Linked DNA regions of Homo sapiens. The protein of the gene in region 2 interacts with the protein of the main gene of each other region in a biochemical or structural test. Each region holds a gene or a part of one and is shown on either strand. Other genes may lie near its edges.

Region 1 (7,926 bases), on a different chromosome or scaffold from region 2:
CATTTTGACTATCAAGAGTCTAAATCAGTGGTTTCCAAACACTGCTGTACATAGGGACCTCTAAAGGAAACATATATGCTTTTTTCTTCCACCCCAATATTCTAATTTCATTGGTATGCGGTGCCATCTCAGGATGAGTATGTTCAGAAAGTATGTCAGGTGATTCTAGTGTGCAGCAAACTTTGTGAACCACTCCTCTAAATACTAAACATTTTAACTCATTTAAGAATCTCAAGCCCTTAAGATACGCAAGGCACAAATTCCGTCAGAGCTGCTCGGACTGCGTACCAACCCAAATCTTTGAGACAATGTTAAGTACATGGTGCACAAAAATCGCTGAAATTAGATCATGAATTGAACCTCAGGTCAACTGATGTATTTTCCTCTCTTCTTTACCCTGTATGACAGGGAGTGATGCAAAGTTGTAAATAAGGAAGCAAAAATAAATTGATCTTATTTGTAAATAGCTGAAGTTCAACTTTCTGGATGCTGGACAAATGCTCTAAGAAAGGCTGTCAAATGCTAGAGGTAATGTGAAAGTTGTCAAGTGTTGGCGATGGGATTCAAGATTAAACAGGCCATTAGATCTGGGTATGGGATAGAGAACTCTTGAACCCTCAACTGAGTCACGCAATATGACTCTATCTTTAAAGAGTTTCTACTAGAAAAGTATTATATATACATACATTTGAGAATGTCTTCCTAGAATTAGATTTGAATCTGTTGGGGGAAGAAGTTTGTACACGGCAGCATAAAATGTGAAAGATGCACCAATTACAGTATTGCACAAATACACATTTCTCTTAATACACTCTTTTTGGCTGGAATAAAAATTTCAAGTTAGCTACCATCGTTAGCTGTGCCATTTGCACCAACTTAGAAAGTGAGGCCAATGTATAAGTAATTAGCCATTTTTAATCTGATTGCCAAGCAGCTAACACAGCTTCATTAAGAAAGTCCAGGAACTAACATGCATAAAGACTTTCATCATGTTTTTTTTTTTTTTCAGAGGCAATTATGGGACCTCTGCAAAATGACCACAATGTTGGCCTACAGCAAAAGTCTTCGTTGCCTTTGGATCAGTGCTGTGATTCACTATATCATTGCTGTCTGGATTGACATAGAACTTCTGAACTGATTCTTTTCGGATGTATTTCTGAGATTCTTTCTCCTTTCTGAATTCAAAAGACTGAAAGAACAGCTAGAACTCTACTGTTAGCAATATGATCATTAAACCACCTGGAATGCTAAGTGACACGTAGCATGTTTTATGGGCAACGAAGGAAAATAAAAGATTACTGCCGAGAGATATAGCCTCTTTTTATGATTGAACAGGAATTAGTATACACATTGGAGGCAAAACTGTTACCAAGAACCTTTGTCAAATAACTAAATTTAGTGACCAAATACCAGGTGTCATCTAAGCAAGAAAAACTGTTTCATAGTAAAATGATATTCTTTTTCTGTTGTTAACCTTATGTCCCAGAAATACTTAGTCAGCTAGAATATTACAAACCTTTATATGTTAAGGACTGCCTTTTTATTTTAAAATGGAGTATAATAGAGTTAATAATATATGCCTCAAATATACTTATAGACATGGATTCTCTCATATGTGTACATCATTGTCAGACGTGGAGATGCCCATCAATGTATCATAAGAATAATCTGCCTGAACTGAAAATTGCCTGCTAGTCTTAATCCATGTTGATTCAGCTCTTTTTATACTATAAATGCTTGCCTAGGTTCAAATACTTTAAATCTACCAATTAAATACTTAAAACACTTTATTGAACATAGAACTGCTATCATTCAACACTCCAGTTTCATTAATCAGCCCAGAAATAGGTAACTCACCACCATTCCCTGATCCTAAGTACATTACCACAGTGACTGACATTCCTGGTTTAAAAATAAAATCTTGTTTCAAATATAGCTTCCCGAGTTCTGGGTAATGAATATAGTTTCATAAAAGTTGACATCATTTCTTCTGATTTCGCCAGAATTAAATACATCCAGTATGCCTCCTGGATATCTGACCACCATATCACTCAAGGCTCTCACAACCTGGTGGGCGTTTTAAGGAGAAGGAGAAACAGACCTGCATAGATGGGGTTAAATCCAAAAGATATCTAATCTTGTGGTTAGAATAGTCGTTGTGTTTATGTGTGTTCAATATGCCATTCAGAAGTTGATTTTTACAGTTCATTTATCAGTTGGCATGCATACATTATGCAGATTTGCTTATGAGGAGAACATTAATATGTACATGTCCAGAACTAGTAAATGCATTATGCTTGGAAGCCAAGCAGTACTCCCATACACTGTTCTTCTTAGAGGTCAGTTCTAACGCATGCTGTTCCAAATAGACCCAATTTCTCTGCTGATATATATTCAAAATGCAGTAGGATGTGGTCATACACACCCAGAAATACCATCTTCATGAGGTGGGGGTGGTGAAATTCAAACATTTTTTTTTTAGCAATGCATTATTGGATATCAGGTACAAACGTGCCTGTCAGCAATTCTAAAGCAAATGAAATAGATTTATTTGAGTCCATCCATTATACAGAAAAGATATTGCTTTACTAACACATACCTCCTCCTCCTCCTCCATTTTGGGGGGACTCTCCCCACCTCCCCCCAAAAAACTCATCACAGTTCACTACGCAACTGATGGAGTATTAAACACTGTCTTCCAAGCTGTGGGAGTTAAAAAGAAGTCGCCTTCCTGCCACACTTCCCCAGTGCTGCAATGGACATAGCATCTCCTCCTCTATCGACCTAGTATGATGCTCGCTCCCCAAGCACTGCAGTCCCCTCGCCGAGGATTGCCTTGGCCACACGCACATGCAGCGGGAAGTCCCCCGATAGGGACAACCACATACCTTTGCTCTCCATTTCGGTCCCTTTCGAGTGCTGGGAAGTTCAATGGAAGTTGGCCGGAAGATGTGGGCCCGCTTCAGATTCCCAAATCTGGGAAGCCAATCTGATGATTTCGCCCGTACTTCCTTCCTTCCCCTCAGGCTTCCTGAAAGATGGGATTTCTTAAACCTTGAAGCTGCAATCAGCCACCAAAGGACACTTAGGAGCAGCAGCAGATTGCCTCTACAGGGGATACGTTGCGACGCGCATCTGATACTGAAATGCATGCACAGTGCCCGCTCAGATTTTTTTTTTTTTTTTTTTACCTGGGTCTGGAAGCTGCAGGCAGGAGCTGTCCTCCGAGCGTGGTGCTGCAGGTGTAGTGACAGATCATCCCACTTTGCTCTCTGGATGCACAGCAGATTTGCATGGGCGCTGGCACGCATGCGCAGGGCGTCCCCCCTCCCCTTTTCACCGCCTCCCGCTCCCCCGCCCCCTTCGCCTCCCTCCCCAATACGGTCCTCAGTTATCCCAGCTGAGGAGCTGTAGCATTCGGTCACAGGGAAGCGCTGCTAAAAATAAACGCCGGACCGGATTTTCCTCTGCAAACTAGAAAATGGATTGGACTAGTACTGCGTGCATCAGGACGAATTACTGAAGTCTTAGAGGAGGCTAGTGTCTCCAGGCAGGGTATGGTTTTATTCAGAAGGCAGGGAGGAGAGATTTACGAATCGTTTTTAATGTTCACAATTTGGGTTTCTCTTTCTACTTGCTGCAGTAACTTTCCAGCTGTCTGCTTCCCTCTCCTCTCCCCACTGACTTCACATTGCTTGTTATATTCCTGTATGTGTTTTGTTTTGTTTTTCGAGAGTGGGGTGAGAGTAGTTATGGAGCTGTCAAAGGTTAATATTCTCTCGCTTCTTTGTTACTCAAACTCAGTGTTTTCCTGCCTGCCTCCACCTCAAAACTGTTCCATGAGCAGGCTCCAAGGCTTCTAAAGTTCTTCAAAAAAGCCACTGAGGATATTTTGAGGTGCTCTTTTTAGCTTTTTTCCAACAACCTGCAAGAAGTCCCCAAAGGTGGGGAGGCGTCTTATTGATAATAAGTACTTCCAAAAGCAATACCTAATCATTTTTGTGAAGTTGCAGGGATAGAGTATTTTTCTTGTACAGAGCTCTAGAGGAAGATGCAAAACCACAAATCTCTTGAAGTGCTACTTTCATATCAAAATATTTCTAAAGCCCACACTGTATTTCGTTTATATGCAAAATGTTTAACAGGAAAAATTGTGTTGTATTTACTACCTTTTTTTTTCAATAGTCCAGATTTTCCTGAGGTGATCATCTCTCCTTGAGAATAATAATCTTATTCTCCAGAAGTCCAGAAAACTCTGTTATCTGAAATGGTTAAGGAAGGAGATGTGCAGATTAGTCACATACTCTACTTCATGAAAGATCCTTCCACAGTAGGCTTCTAGTCCCAATTTTCAAAACATTGAAATATAATAAAATGTACTCCCAACAAGAAACCTGGAGTTGTATCTAATTTAATCTTTTTCTGGTGATTCAGAGGGCATCCTTTGATTTTTCCAATGCCTGAGGGCCATGATTACAAATATTAACCACGGATGGTTCAGCCAGACATGGACATTATTAGTGGAGGACTCCCACTAATGAACTGCTGTGGGTCAGCAACGCCTGGATCCATTCAGCATTTAGGAGTATCGGATTGCAGAGGCCACAACCTAGGGCCTACTAATTTTTAGGTTCTCCAACTGTATGCCAAAGTACGTGTTTGGAAGAATCATAAAATTCAGGATTTCTTTTCAATGTTGAATAGGCTTAGGAAGTAAGCTTAGGGTGGGAGTAGTGTTGCTCCTTAAGAACAATAGTCTATTTCATTGAGATAAATAATTTCTGCTCTTAATACTGCACCCCGTTACATGTTCTTTCCTTCTCAAAGGTTTTAGAATAGGAGATATCTTTAGAATGCATCTCTATGTACTCTTCATATTTATTCTTTTACAGACGGAGAAACTAAAGGCAGGGGAGGAGTGGCACTTGAAAAGAGTCACATGGTGAACCAGATCTGGGCTCAGAACCTAAGTGTCATACCTCAAAGGCAGAGGCAAGCCATCTATAGTCCAGAATGATTTTTCATATAACTGCCTTCCCATTATCTACAGTGAATAAGAACAGGGAGAACCTTCTAGTTCATAAATTATCATTATTTTTATTCATAATTTTAAGAACCCAGCTGCTTTATTAAATAGAAAGCAAATCAAATTTAATGCAAAATTTGTGTTCTGACATTCAAGATCTTTCCATTCTTCTCCAAGCTTAACTCCTAGACAACAATTGCTATTATCCTAAACAAACCTCAAGATTGTTTTTAAACCAGGGGAAAGTGGGATCACAGACCCCCACTACCACAAATTATGCAGTCTAGTTTCCCACGTATGGGGAAATTGCAGGGGTCAGCACATCTGGAATGCAATTGATAAGCCTTGACTGGGAAAACAACCTTCTTGCTCATGATAGCTCCTCTGTCAAGATTTTTCTTACCTTTGCTTACATAGTCATTGCTGGAATATCTTGACCTCATCAAACCACTACCTACCACAAGTATCTACAAATTCAAATCTTATATTTTCCTCTAGATCCATCTCCTTCTTACAGTCTTCCCTGATACTCTTAGTCTGAAAATATTCTCTACCAAGAACACTGATGATCCGCTCACTAATGATTCCAAAACTGATGAGTTACTTCTCTTCCATCACTATTTTTTATTCTGTACCAGAATGATTTATGTATATATCTTGTTCCTTTTTCCCACTCATATTTTTAAATGGCCTCCTTTTACTTCAGTGTAGTCTAGAGTGTCCTGAACATAGGAAACAATAAAAATGTTTCATGAATTAATAACATTTAGCATACATGTTTTTGTGTACTTTACTATGTGACATTAACTACAATCACCATGATAACAAAATGATGATAATATTGACCTAACATTGCTCAGAGCTTACTATGTGCCAGGTACTATAAGGATTCTAAATGTTTAATGAATATTATCTTTATTCATTAAATAAGCTATATGAACATGCAAACGGCCAATAAATATATGAAAAAAAGTTCAACATCACTAATCATCAGAGAAATGCATATTAAAACCACAAAGAGATATCATTTCATCCCAGTTAGGATGGCTATTATCAAAAGACAAAGAAAATAAAGCACATGCTAGTGAGGAAGCAGACAGAAGGGAATTCTTATGCACTGTTGGTGGGAATGTAAACTAGTACAGTCACTATGGAGAACAGTATTGAGTTTTCTAAAAAAAAAAAAAAAAAAAAACTAGAATTACCATATGATCCAGCAATCCCACTACTGGGAATTTATCCAAAAGAAAGGGAATCAGTATATCAAAGAGATATCTGCACCCATATGTTTATTGCAGCACTATTACAATAGTCAAAATATGGAATCAACTTAGGTGTCCAACAACAAATGAATGCATAAAGAAAGTGGGGTACATATACACAATAAAATATTATTCAGCCATAAAAAAGAATGGAATCCTGTCATTTGCAGCAACATAGATGAAACTGAAGGACATTATGCTTGATGAAATAAGCCTAAGAAACAGAAAGTTAAACACCACATGTTCTCACTCATACGTGTAAGATAAAAGAAAAAGTTGATTTCATAGAAGTAAAAAGTAGAACAAAGGATAGGAGGAGCTGGGAAGGGTAGGGGGAAGGAGGGAGAGATTTGTAAAAGGATACAATATTACAGCTAGGTGGGAGGAATAAGTTCTAGTGTTCTATACGACTGTAATATGGTTATAGTTAATAATAATATTTTACATACTTTAAAATCAGCAGAAGGAGGATATTGAAGTTTCCCAACACAAAGAAATGATCAATATTTGAGATGATGAATATAATAATTACCCTGATCTGATCACTTACATTATATGTATTGAAATGTCACTGTTTACCCCATGAATGTGTACAATTATTATTTGTCAATTTAAGAAATAAAATAAAATATTATGAGGTTAGTACTATTATGATCTCTGTTTTAAAGATAAGCAACCTGGAGCACAGAGAGGTTAAAGTATGAATAAAACATGATCTCTGCCGTACAGAAGCATAAAGTCTATTGAAGATGATAGAAACATAAATGATTTTAAAAGCTATCGTAAGGTATAAGATAGGTTGTCACAGGTGGAGTAGGAGGTGCAGAAGAGTTGGCAGTCAGCCAGCCTGAGGGTTTTAAGAAAGTTTCCTGGAGGAGACATATATAGAGCTAGTTCTTGAAGTGTGAGCTTCACAGGGTTGGGGTATGAGTGTGGGGCAGGGACCATGTGAGTGTGCAAAAGTACTTTTGGACATAAGAAGTTATTATCATTTTCCAGGTTTCTCTGCCAGATGTGAATCTCCAATGTCAAAGAGGAAAGTGGACGGAGGCAGAGAAATGCTTAGTACTGTTCCGGGATCAGAGCTACAAAACTCCAGAGTATCTGGGAGAGATCATATCTCTTTATCTCACCTAAGTTTTCTATCATACATTTGAATAGAGAGACAGTAGAGCATAGTGAAAAAAATAGATTCTGGAACCAGACAGACGTGGGCTCAAATACAATTTGCTTCTTATTATTTATGGTACCATCTTGGGCAATTAATCCATTTGGGTCCTATTTTTTTAATCTGGAAAAGTAAGTAATATCTTCTTGTAGGCAGAGCTGTTGTAAGGACTGACCATAATACTTATAAAAGTGTCTAAAATACTGGTCACTCAATAAATTGTACTCACTATTATATATAGGGTCTTGGATCCATCCAGGCTAAGGATTAGAGCTGGAATCCCTGAAGGTTCCCTCCTTTTTAATAAGAAAAGGGTCTAATCCCCCCATCCCAAAATGGAAGAGGATTTAAAGGAAGAATTGCTTCATAAAAGTGTTGATGAAACATAATTTGATCTAGTTATGATGAACTCACTTAATGATAATCCTGGAATAGGGGAAATAGACTAGTAGCCTGGCAATTTGCTATTT
Region 2 (4,802 bases):
TGAGTATTACAGCCTGAGCTCTGCCTCCTGCCAGATCAGTGGCGGCACAAGATTCTCATAGGAGCACGAACCCTATTGTGAACTGCACATGCAAGGGATCCAGGTTGCACGTTCCTTATGAGAATCTAATGCCTGATGATCTGAAGTGGAACAGTTTCACCCAAAACCATTCCCCACCCAAAACCTTTCCATCCATGGAAAAGTTGTCTTCCACAAAACCAGTCCCTGGAGCTAAAAACGTTGGGGAGTGCTGCCCTAGCAAAATGCCCCAGTCAGGTCCATTTCTACCCAGATGGTGAGGTTGGGCGGTCCAGAGGAGCGGGCCCTGATGAGTGTGTGGGCGTCCAGGTGCAGTGCTGGAAGTTTCCAGCCTGGCTCCATGATCATAGAGGGTGGGGCTGGGGGGTTTGTTAGGAATTGACAGAGGATACCTAAAGCCTCATTTCAGTAGCTAGAACAGCCTCATTCCAATAGCTCATAACTGGGGTCCACAAACTATAGAATTCAGGGGTCTGTGCACTTGGATTGGAATAGAATACAACTTTATTTTCAGTCATTTCTATTTCCTTGGTTATGAACAAAGGTAGCAAAGTGCAGTTGTATCAGCAGTGCCAATAGAAATTACAGAGTTTTTCATATCCCTTTACAGTTTGCCACAGGTATCTATCTTAAAATATTGTTTACACTCATCTCTCTTCAGTTTACCATTGTTTAATAGGCCTACCCTCGATCTTTTTATTCAATATGTTAATAAAGAAACCTATACACATAGTATCACGTTATACATTTTAAAAATATTTTGACAACTGTATATAAATATAACTAGCTTACTTTGTAATCCTACATATTTTATGTGTATGAAAATATTATTCTGAAATTAGCCAGGCATGGTGGTGCATGCCTATAGTCCCAGCTACTTGGGAGGCTGAGGTGGGAGGATCACCTGAACCCAGGGAGGTCGAGGCTACAGTGAGCTGTGATTGCACCACTGCACTCCAGCCTGGGTAATGGAGTGAGACCCCATCTCAAAAGAAAAGAAAAGAAAATATGATTTTGAGAAGCGATCCATGGCACAAAAAATGGCCAAGAGCCCCTGACTGAGAGGGGCCCTGTTGACACTCACATGCCACCCGCCCAGAGTGAGGGCAGCTGCCCAGCTGAGCAGGGACCCCGCAGGAGGAACCAGAGCAGGAGAATCCCTGGCACCACCCTTGCTCCAGTACACACCCATGGGTGCTCAATGAAGAAGTGAGGACAACTTGCTGCCATCTTCAGTTTGATGGAATGGCCTTAGGCCTCTGCTGCCGATTGTGAAATCATCGGCCTCTTACCTAAAAGCTCAGGAGGATTTAGGGGGAATGCAGATAGAGCACATGAGTTCACTGTGTAATGAAGGAAGGGGAGCCTCCCAGCATTAGATCTTAGGGAATTGTTCAAATTTAAGGAAGCAAAAGCCAAGAGTTGGGAGGAGAGGCAGGGAGAGATTCCTCCCTCCTCAGCTGTAGCTATAGCATTGCTTGGGGCCATGGAAAAACAGTTTTCCACACCCTAGCAGACAGCAAAAGCTATTTCAATGTGCCAAGTGAAAGTTGAGCCATGCCCTCATCCAAACTAGCCCCCAGCCTCACGCAGGCAGCTCCGGGCACCCGTGCACACTGGGTTCACCCTTACGGAGCTGTTCCTCCATCAGGCAGCTCTGGGCACTGGTGCACACTGGGCTTGCCCTTACGGGGGCTATTCCTCCATTTCTGTCTCCCCTTGTGCTGCCCCTCACTGGGGGCAGCACCACCCCAATCCACGCCAGGCAAGCCCTGCCCTGGGACACCGCTGCTGTCTGTTTTCATGGATGACTCAGGCCCCAGCAAAGATACTCTTTGTTCCTCAAAAGAGGGAATGGAGGGTACACTTGCTCTTAGGAAATGTCCCCCACCTTGCAGTCTGGCTTCCTGATCTCTCTCTGTTAAGATCTTTTAAGCCACCCCATCAGCCACAGAACGAAGCGCATCCACCAAGAATACCTGAGCCCACATCTCCCCCTCCCTCGCCCCGCCAGCTCCTCTGCCCCCCACAGCAGGAGAATGGACTTGTTTCCTATTACACAGGCCATGTGCCCACTGGGCAAGACCCAAACCCGTGGAACCCCCACTCCCTCTACTCCCCACCCCCTCCACCCCCCACCTTGCACTGCTGAGCACCTCCACCGCCTTTTGAAGAAACTTCACAGATTTGAGAAAACTCTGTGGGAGGGGCTGAGGTTTAATTCCGGAGTGGGGATGGCCTAGGAGGACACCAGAGGATGAAGCGGGGGGTGGGGTCTGGGAGTCTGAAATAATAGAGATTTTCAGGAGAGCAGCTCAAAGGTACAGCCCAGGGCCGCCCACTTCTGCTTCCTGCTGGGCTCTCTGCCACCTTCCATATGACATTGGCCTGGTCGGGGCAAAGAAGTGACCGACAGGCCCCTGGGACATCTTTCACTCATTATTCATTCACGCACAGGTATTTGCTCACAGTGGGCAATGGGAAGGGGAGGCCAAACCACACACTAAATGCTGCCCACAGAGGGCCTGCAGCCCAGGGGGGATGATGGAGAACAGCTGCCTGGAGGGAGGCCTAAGGTAGAGCCTTGAAGGCCAAGGAGAATGGAGAGGAGAATGGAGGGCCTTCCACGCACGGGCACTAAAAGAAGGCCAAGCCTACTTGGGGAGAGGCAATATCGGGACCTGTGCACTGGGCTGCACTGGGCAAAAAAGGCTATGTGTGTCATGCTGTTGGGAGAAAATGGGTCCTGCGGTTAAGTACATCTGGGAAGTTCTGGATTAAATGAGGAACGGATCTCTTTACTGCAGGACTTGTCAAGACCTTTAACCTGTGAATGCAGAATGAACCTTACGGTGGATCCCAGGACTGGTGTCCCACACTGACATAAGGACTAGCTAGGGGAGGCAGTGGGAGCTGATGAGATTAGAGAGAACACAAGGGGTTTTGAATGCCAGGCCAAGAAGGAAGGCTAGACTTTTTCCTTGGGGCAGTGAGAATTCTCAGGAGGCTTAGAGGGATGTAGACTCAGGGAACCTGGGGCAGTTTTAGTAACCAGCGAGGCCAGGGCTGTGGCAAGACTAGCCAGTCCCAGTCAAGGACTCCCCAGCTCCTTGACAGCAGGGCCATTCTGTGGGAGAGAAAACAGAGACCATGGACACAGTCAGCAGTAAGGGTCTCAGACTGGCGTGAAGAGGGAAGGCTGGGCAACCCTTGAATCCAAGCTGGGTACAGTGCTCAAGCCTACTTGGGTTCCAATCTGACTCCACCACTTCCTAGCTGTGGGTGTCTGACCCAATGTCTCTGTGTCCTCAGGGTATTTGTTTTTTTTGTTTTTTTGAGATGGAGTCTCACTCTGTCACCCAGGCTGGAGTGCAGTGGTGTGATCTCAGCTCACTGCAACCTCCACCTCCCAGGTTCAAGCAATTCTGCCTCAGCCTCCCGAGTAGTTTGGGATTACAGGCATGCACCACCAAGCCCAGCTAATTTTTGTATTTTTGGTAGAGATGGGGTTTCACCATGTTGGCCAGGCTGGTCTTGAACTCCTGACCTCAAGTGATCCGCCCACCTCAGCCTCCCAAGGTGCTGGGATTACAGGCGTGAGCTACTGCGACCGGCCTGTGGTTTATTTTTTAGAGCAGTTTTAGGTTGGTAGAAAGTATAGAGGTTCCCACCTACTTCCTCCCCTTCTCTCTCCTCAGTTTTCTTGATGAGTAACATCTTGCATTAGTGTGGCACAATTGTTACAATTTATGAACCAATACTGATACATTATTATTAACTGAAGTCCATAGTTTACTTGAGGGTTCACTCTGTGTTATCCAGTCCTACAGATGGTAACAAATGCACAATAGGTATCCACCATTACAGTATTATACAGAAGAGTTTCAAGGCCTTAAAAATGCTGTCTGGGCCTGCAGGGTGGCTCATGCCTATAATCCCAGCACTTTGGGAGGCCAAAGTGGGAGGATCACTTGAGTCCAGAAGTTCAAGATCAGCCTGGGCAACATAGAGAAACCCCGCCTATACAAAAAAGAAAAAAAATGTTTTAATTAGCCACCTGCAGTCCTGGTGCACCTGGGTGGCACAGACCTGTAGTCCCAGCTACTTAGGAGGCTGAGGTGGGAGGATGGCTTGAGCCCAGGAGGCTGAGGTTGCAGTAAGATGTAATTGTGCCACTGAACTCCAGCCCGGGTGACAGAGCCAGACCCTGTCTCAAACAAACAAACAAAAAAAAGCTTTCTGAGCCTCAGTTTTAACACCTGTAAGATGAGTGTGAAACTCCATCTGAAGCCCCCCAGTCTCCTCCTATAGGTTTTTGATTTAGGCCTCCCAACAAATCAAGTATGACTGAAATCCACTAAATGTCTCGAACTATGGTCTGATATCCATCAGAATCACTAGGCTTGGGTCAGGGCGAGAGGTCCTCATTCAAATGCACATTCTAAGGTCTCAACTGCAGACCTGCTGAGTCACAAGCCCTGGGGTGGGGCCCAGGAATCTGCATTTTAACAAGTCCCCTGGTGCACAAGGAAATTTGAGACCCACTGTGCCCGACAGCTTGTGCACATGGAAATTTGTTCTGCCAAAGTTTCTCAGATAAAAACAGAGAGGTTCTAGCCACTGTCAGGTCAAAGCTCTGGAGAGCTGTGCCATCTCCCAAAGGGAGCAGAACGGTTTGCCATCAAGCCAGGCAAGAGCCCATTTCTGCCTGTGCAGCTCGCAGTCTCCGAGCCTGCTGTTGTTTCATATCTTGATTGCTTATC

What was found.
Region 1: of the proteins of MAPK13 (region 2) and FGF12, one has a biochemical effect on the other in vitro, tested with the Homo sapiens proteins (one study listed by BioGRID).

The regions. Positions count from the first base shown.
Region 1 is NC_000003.12:192,724,293-192,732,218, forward strand, and holds the start of FGF12 (fibroblast growth factor 12), read right to left. Parts: upstream 3,250-7,926; 5' UTR 3,192-3,249; intron 3,032-3,191; 5' UTR 2,902-3,031; coding exon 2,889-2,901; intron 1-2,888. UniProt on the Homo sapiens protein: Involved in nervous system development and function. Involved in the positive regulation of voltage-gated sodium channel activity. Promotes neuronal excitability by elevating the voltage dependence of neuronal sodium channel SCN8A fast inactivation.
Region 2 is NC_000006.12:36,140,245-36,145,046, reverse strand, and holds the end of MAPK13 (mitogen-activated protein kinase 13), read right to left. Parts: 3' UTR 526-4,802; downstream 1-525. UniProt on the Homo sapiens protein: Serine/threonine kinase which acts as an essential component of the MAP kinase signal transduction pathway.